Homo sapiens: one gene and its partner. The protein of the gene in region 2 purifies or fractionates together with the protein of the main gene of each other region. This does not show direct contact. Each region holds a gene or a part of one and is shown on either strand. Other genes may lie near its edges.

Region 1 (3,500 bases), on a different chromosome or scaffold from region 2:
GTGCTCTAGGTCTGAGTTTTCCTGTTCCTCCACACATCAGAATGGAATCAAACACTCATGAAGTGTAGGATGAGGACATTCACAGGAAACATAGCATTCTTTATGGAAATATGACTTGGTAGAAAGCCCACAGCCTCTGCTAACAGGTTAATAATGAGTCTGAAGATTTGCAAAGGACAGAGGACATATTGCTCCTGTAAGTATGCGTTCAATTTTCACTGAACGTTAAAAATTTTGGGTTCTAAACCTTATAACACCTCAAATGCTACTTTTCTGTGTGGTGTTCACCTTTCCAGTTTCTATGAATTCCTTCTTAATTAGTTTTTGTCCTTTCACTAGTTCTTCGTCTTCCTTCAGGCTATTCACATTCCGAGTTTTCAAGGAGTTTCTCAGGGACTTCAGATGCCTGCCATTGGACCTAGAACTGAGAGAGGGAAGCTTCCCTGAGCATGCAGGCAATTCCCAAGGGTCTTCTTGCAAGCAGATGTCACAGTCACTCAGCTGGCATCAAAGCGCATTTCAGGGCAGATGACCAGGGGAAACTGACACAACCCCGATCTTTCCCCATCCCCACAACAAAGAAACAAAGGAAGAGCTTGGAGTGTCCATGGTGTTAACCCTCACAGGAAAAGCCCAGGAAGAAAAAGAAAAAGATCAAGTGGAAATATAGAGCTGACGAGGGCTGCCAGCTGAATAGATAGCCAACCTGCGGCTAAGTGTTCGACGAAAGCTGTTCTCTCTTCTCATGGTTATGGAGGCTGCATCTTCGGGGATCTCTTCCACACTGGATATCAGCCCATAGTCATCGTCTTCTTCTTCACTGCCATCATGGACTAGGGAGACACAGTAGAGGTTAGGGAAAGAGCTGCATAGATCCCTGTCAGTCCTATGAACAAGGAGAGAGAAGCCTCCTCTGATCTTGCTGGTTTCAGCAAGGGATCCCAGATGTACATACAGCATGGAATACTTTACTCCATAAATACTCCATACATAGTTATTAGTACATCTTGTTATTAAGAAATATCAGGATAAAGGAGAGATGAATTAATATTCCACTGGAAGAGAAAATGGTCAAAATGGAGAAGAAAATTCCTAGAAATGCCCAGGTTCCTTTGGAGGAGGAAAGAGCTTTTAAGGATTATGGTAGACAAATAGAAGAGTCACATTCTCAGAATTGACTAAAGAAGTGATTGTAAATTGAAAATGCTCATCTTGGCCAGGCGTGGTGGCTCACACCTGTAATCCCAGCCCTTTGGGAGGCCAAGGTGGGAGGATCACTTCAGCCCAGGAGTTTGAGACCACCTTGGGCAACATAGGCAAACTCTATGTCTACAAAAATTTAAAAATTAGCAGGGTGTGATGGTGCATGCCTGTGGTCCCAGCTACTTGGGAGGCTGAGGTGAGAGGATCACTTGAACACAGGAGGTTGAAGGTGAGCCATGATTGTGCCAATGTACTCCAGCCTGGGCAACAGAGTGAGACTCTCTCAAAACAGAAAAGAAAATGCTCATCTTGAAATTCAAATAATTTAACAAACTTATATTAATTTAAATCACTTAAAAGACATACCCGGAAAATAAAATAAAATAAAATATAAGACACAGTGTGGGCATCAGTGGGGATGGTAGAATAGGAACCTCCAGATATCTACTCCTCCATAAAAGCAATTAGAATAATGATTAAAAATGGTCAAAGTCAACTTTTTCAGAGCTCTGAAATTAACCAAAGGCTTGCAACAATCCCAGGAGCATTTGTGTTTTTGAAGAGCTGAAACTTAGTAAGAACAGTAAGTTTTGTGGCAGTTTAACTTACCCTATTTCTGTCCCCCCTCTCCTTGGCTGCTATAACCTAGAAAACTAACAGCCATACAATCATAGCAGCCATGAAAACCAGCAGCCTAGCAGCCACTGGAGGGGGCAGAGTGGGTTCAGAATGCTCCCAAAAACCCCATCCCTGGAGAACTGACATTATCTCACCTATCTGGAATTCTCTGAAAACCCCCATTTATAGGGCCTATTTGACCTAACACTGAGCTAGCTCAAAAAACCAGCAGCAATTATTTAACATCACAGCAGCTGCCTGAGGTGGTGATAACACTTGGGGCAAATAAGAAGCTGACCAAAAACTTAAAAGGAAAAGCTGGGGAATAAGATGCTCACAGGGTCTCTGATCTCTCTGATATATTCCCAGCAATCTAGAATGCCACCTACACATGCAGAGCTGTGCACATGTCCAGGAAAGATGGAAGAGGGCTCTAATCTTTCACTTCCGGCTGACTATGTGGCTCTGTATAAGCAGGAAGTGAAGGCTAAGGCAGAGATGTAAATTGCTGGAGTGCTGAAGACATGCTCCCCACCACCCACAACACACACACAGAACCTCTCAGCAAAGGCTGAGACACTTATTGTTTCAAAGCAATTAAGGGAGTATCTGTCTAATCACTAGCTGACCACTAAGCCAACCAAACAGACTTCAGTGGTCACACATGACAATGACAAAGAATACAGACTTAACAGAATTAGTTCAGGAAATGAAACAAACATATAGGAAGAACAACCACAACAAACAGCAACAACAAAGATCACCAAACCACCGGAAACTAGGCGAGAGGCCTTGAACAGATTATTGCCTAACACCTTAAGAAAGAACTAATCCTGCTGACACCTTGATTTTGCCCTTCTAGCCTCCAGAAATGTGTGGCCATTCAGTTTGTGATGTGTTGTTAAGGCAGCTAATTAGGAAACTCATACACAGAACCAATCTCAGTGCAGCTCACCTTGCCCTCCTGCCCTTCTCTTCATTCCACCAAGTCCCAGATCCCAGGGCCAACACAGCAGCATCCTAGGCTCTGGAGCTTACAAAACTGCTCAGAAATGTTCTCTCAGTGTTCACCAGAAAAAGGGCTTACGGGGATGTTTTGCAAACTGTTCTTTGTACATTAAAGACAGGATTCTTCAAAGGAGAAGTGGTTTATAACAGAATCCAGAAACTCAGATCCAGGCTAATCAGAAAAAAATGTTTACCATTAGTATGGGAAAACTGCCCAATTTTCTTACGGTAACCATGGTGATGTGGTTGACTGAGCAATAACTCAGAGAACTCTAGCATTAGACACTGTTCTTTCCTTGGGAACTTCACCCTCCATTCCAGGCAGGTGTGGAGGGGCAACCCACCCCTTCATCTGGTGCCCAACGTGGAGGCTTTTCTCTAGGGTGAAGGTACGCTCGAGCGTGGTCATTGAGCACAAGTCGACGAGAGATCCCGAGTACATATACAGTCAGCCGTACGGTAAGCTTGTGAGCTCGGAAGAAGCTAGGGTAATAATGGGGCAAACTAAAAGTAAAATTAAAAGTAAATATGCCTCTTATCTCAGCTTTATTAAAATTCTTTTAAAAAGAGGGGGAGTTAAAGTATCTACAAAAAAATCTAATCAAGCTATTTCAAATAATAGAACAATTTTGCCCATGGTTTCCAGAACAAGGAACTTTAGATCTAAAAGA
Region 2 (3,174 bases):
AGATAGTTTATGTCTCCTGGATGCTAGTTTAGCCCCGTAAGACCACTGTGTCTTCTAGTAAAAGGTCTGAGTCGCACCTGTGGGGCCTGAGATTGGGACGAGAAGCCTTGAAGGCCTTAGTCCCACCAGACCTCCCACATCCACCCCCGCCCCTCCCTTCTCCACGGAAGCCGCCCTGCGGCTGGGTTCACGCATGCGGTCTTTGTCCTGGTCAATCAGACAGAATTATACACCCGGATGCCTGTGCTTCCTGAGGACCAAGATGTAGCGGACGAGAGGACCCGCATCCTGGCCCCCAGTCCGGACTCCCTGCTCCACACACCTCTGATTATCAAGGAGCTCTCCAAGGTACCCTTGCAATTTGGGGTGGAGTCCTTCCTGCCAGCTGACTACCTGGCTGTCCCCAGGGTCCGACCCCATCCCTGGAAGCTTTCGGCGCTGAGGCTCAGACTGCTCTGCTTTGCGTCCAGGCCTCCGCATTCCGTGTTTTCTGTTGGGTGCCTGCAGGTGTACGAGCAGCGGGTGCCCCTCCTGGCCGTGGACAGGCTCTCCCTCGCGGTGCAGAAAGGGGAGTGCTTCGGCCTGCTGGGCTTCAATGGAGCCGGGAAGACCACGACTTTCAAAATGCTGACCGGGGAGGAGAGCCTCACTTCTGGGGATGCCTTTGTCGGGGGTCACAGAATCAGCTCTGATGTCGGAAAGGTGGGTGCAGCCAGGGAGGCTCTGAAGGGGTGAGACAGGCATGGCTGGAGGGGGCACCCTGGAGGCAGGGACAGAGGGATGCTGTCCCCAAACAGCTGCTGCATCTGTGGCTTGAAATGGGCCCAGCACATGCCTCTGGACAGCGAGACAAGGTAATGAGCTAAAGCTAAGCTTCGCCAGAACTAGCAGGTGATGGGAGGGGAGAGAGATGGGTGCCAACATCCGTGAGCCCAGAGAGGCGCATTCAGCACTGACAGCCACCTCTGTGCAGAGGCCATTCTGTGTCCAGGCAGCTCAGGTGTGGGGTTAGAGGCCTTGCTGAGTGAAGGGATGGAAGGCCCTGGGCCCGCCCAGCTTTCCCATGTTGAGCTGAGCCCCACCAGCTCCCCCGCAGAAGGACCAGAGGCAGCCCTCCTGCACCTCTGCCCGGGGCCTGCATGGGAATTCAAGTGTGCCAAGCAGAGCAGGGGAAATGGTAAGCAGGGCCTGGGGCTGAGAAGTGGCCGCGGAGTCCTCTCCTGAGCTCACACCAGGGGTGCCTGGACAGCAGAGGCCCTGGGCCAGAGCACATGCAGGCCCTCTCGGGAGGAAAGCCTCATCCTAGGCTGCAGACTCCCCCATAGAGGGTTCCAGGGCTTACAGGCAATGCACAGCAAACAAACAGAGGAGATGGTACCATGGCTGGAAGCAATAGACACAGGCCCCATGGGGGGACAAGCACATAGGCGTTAGATCTGCATCATCAGGCCAGATTATAAAAGATTATAAACTCACTGTGTCTACAGAAATAAATTATGCAATTGAAAATCTATGCAGGGGAGAGAAAACCGTATGTGATCTAGCAATGGAGGAGAGGGTGAGAAGTCCCCAGTACATGTAATCTGAGTTCCAGAAGGAAGAGAGAGAGAGAGTGGCAGGGGGTAGTAGCCAAAAAGGTAGTGGCTAAGACTTTCCCCAAACTGATTAAAAACAGATTCTGGGCTGGGAGCGTGGCTCACGCCTATAATCCCAGCTTTGGAAGGCCAAGGCAGGCAGATCACTTGAGGTCTAGAGTTCGAGACCAGCCTGGCCAACATGGCAAAATGCTGTCTCTACCAAAGAAAAATACAAAAATTAGCAGGGCATGGTGGCAGGTGCCTATAATCCTAGCTACTCGGGAGCCTGAGGCATGAGAATCACTTGAGCCTGGGAGGCAGAGGTTGTAGTGAGCCGAGATCATGCCACTGCGCTCTACCAGTGTAAGGGAGACAGAGTAAGACTCTGTCTCAAAAAAAAAAAAAAAAATTCTGGAAGCTTGAGAACCCCAAAGAAGGAAGGTAAAGAAAAAGAAATCCAGTCTCTGGAATCCACAGAACCCAGGCACTCCTGCCCCCGACCAGCTGCTGAAGGTAGCTAAGCAGATGGCAGCAGGCACGTCTTAATTCAGCTGGACGTGGTCACTTGTGCAGAGAACAGCTGCTGCACCATCTGACCAAGCAGTACTCACCCCAAACGTGGTGCCCACAAATCTTTCTTCTTAGAGGGAGAAGAAAGAGTCCTAGCACATCAGATGTCCCAGGTGTGAATGAGTGGGTAGCCAGCTCTGAGTCTGCTTCTACGTAAAGGCCATTCTTGCACCACCTAACCCCATGGCTGCCTGTCCTGGACCAGGCTCTGAGAGCAGCTCTGGAAGCCTCCCTGCACCAGGCACATCCTTCCTGTGTCCCTGTTCCAAGAGCTTCCACTGTGGGCAGCCACCACGGCCTGTGCATAGCTCCAGCGCCCCCGTGTACACACACTGGCAGGAACCACAGACAGGCGCAGTGGTGGGCACCTCAAGGGTAGTCCCCGTGGTCCTCTGGAGGAAGGAGGCTTCCCTCCAACCCGCCTCCCTCCCCGGCTATGCTCCGACCCCAGGTGCGGCAGCGGATCGGCTACTGCCCGCAGTTTGATGCCTTGCTGGACCACATGACAGGCCGGGAGATGCTGGTCATGTACGCTCGGCTCCGGGGCATCCCTGAGCGCCACATCGGGGCCTGCGTGGAGAACACTCTGCGGGGCCTGCTGCTGGAGCCACATGCCAACAAGCTGGTCAGGACGTACAGGTGCACCTCCCGAGCCCTGGCCCTTCCCAGAGTGGAGTCAGAATCAAGGTCCCCATAGCATAGAGCTGGGAGTGACCGCTCAGGTCAGCAGCCAGAGCTCCTGCTTGTGGCTCCAGGATGGAGCTGGGATGTGGTGGTGTGACCCAGGTAGCTCCACGTAGGAAAGGGACTGCCCTGACAGTGCCTGCCACCTAGGGACAAAGCCAGCAGTGAGAGATGTCAGGGTCGGCAGGTCCCCTTTAGGTGCAGGCAGATGTCTTCCCATGTAGGTGCGTGCACCGGGCCCCTGGGAACAGCCTTCTCTGGGGCCTCCAGCCCTATGCGGTGGGCTTTCCAGGTGCACACACAGCTCCTTCCTCTTCACTAGGGCTGTTCTGCAATTGCTGGG

Evidence for each region. The genes of interacting proteins can lie anywhere in the genome.
Region 1: the proteins of ABCA3 (region 2) and ABCC2 fractionate together in Homo sapiens (co-fractionation; one large-scale study listed by BioGRID). This does not show direct contact.

What each region holds. Positions count from the first base shown.
Region 1 is NC_000010.11:99,827,640-99,831,139, reverse strand, and holds part of ABCC2 (ATP-binding cassette sub-family C member 2), read right to left. Parts: intron 834-3,500; coding exon 707-833; intron 425-706; coding exon 289-424; intron 1-288. UniProt on the Homo sapiens protein: ATP-dependent transporter of the ATP-binding cassette (ABC) family that binds and hydrolyzes ATP to enable active transport of various substrates including many drugs, toxicants and endogenous compound across cell membranes.
Region 2 is NC_000016.10:2,278,555-2,281,728, reverse strand, and holds part of ABCA3 (phospholipid-transporting ATPase ABCA3), read left to right. Parts: intron 1-219; coding exon 220-348; intron 349-507; coding exon 508-702; intron 703-2,598; coding exon 2,599-2,786; intron 2,787-3,174. UniProt on the Homo sapiens protein: Catalyzes the ATP-dependent transport of phospholipids such as phosphatidylcholine and phosphoglycerol from the cytoplasm into the lumen side of lamellar bodies, in turn participates in the lamellar bodies biogenesis and homeostasis of pulmonary surfactant.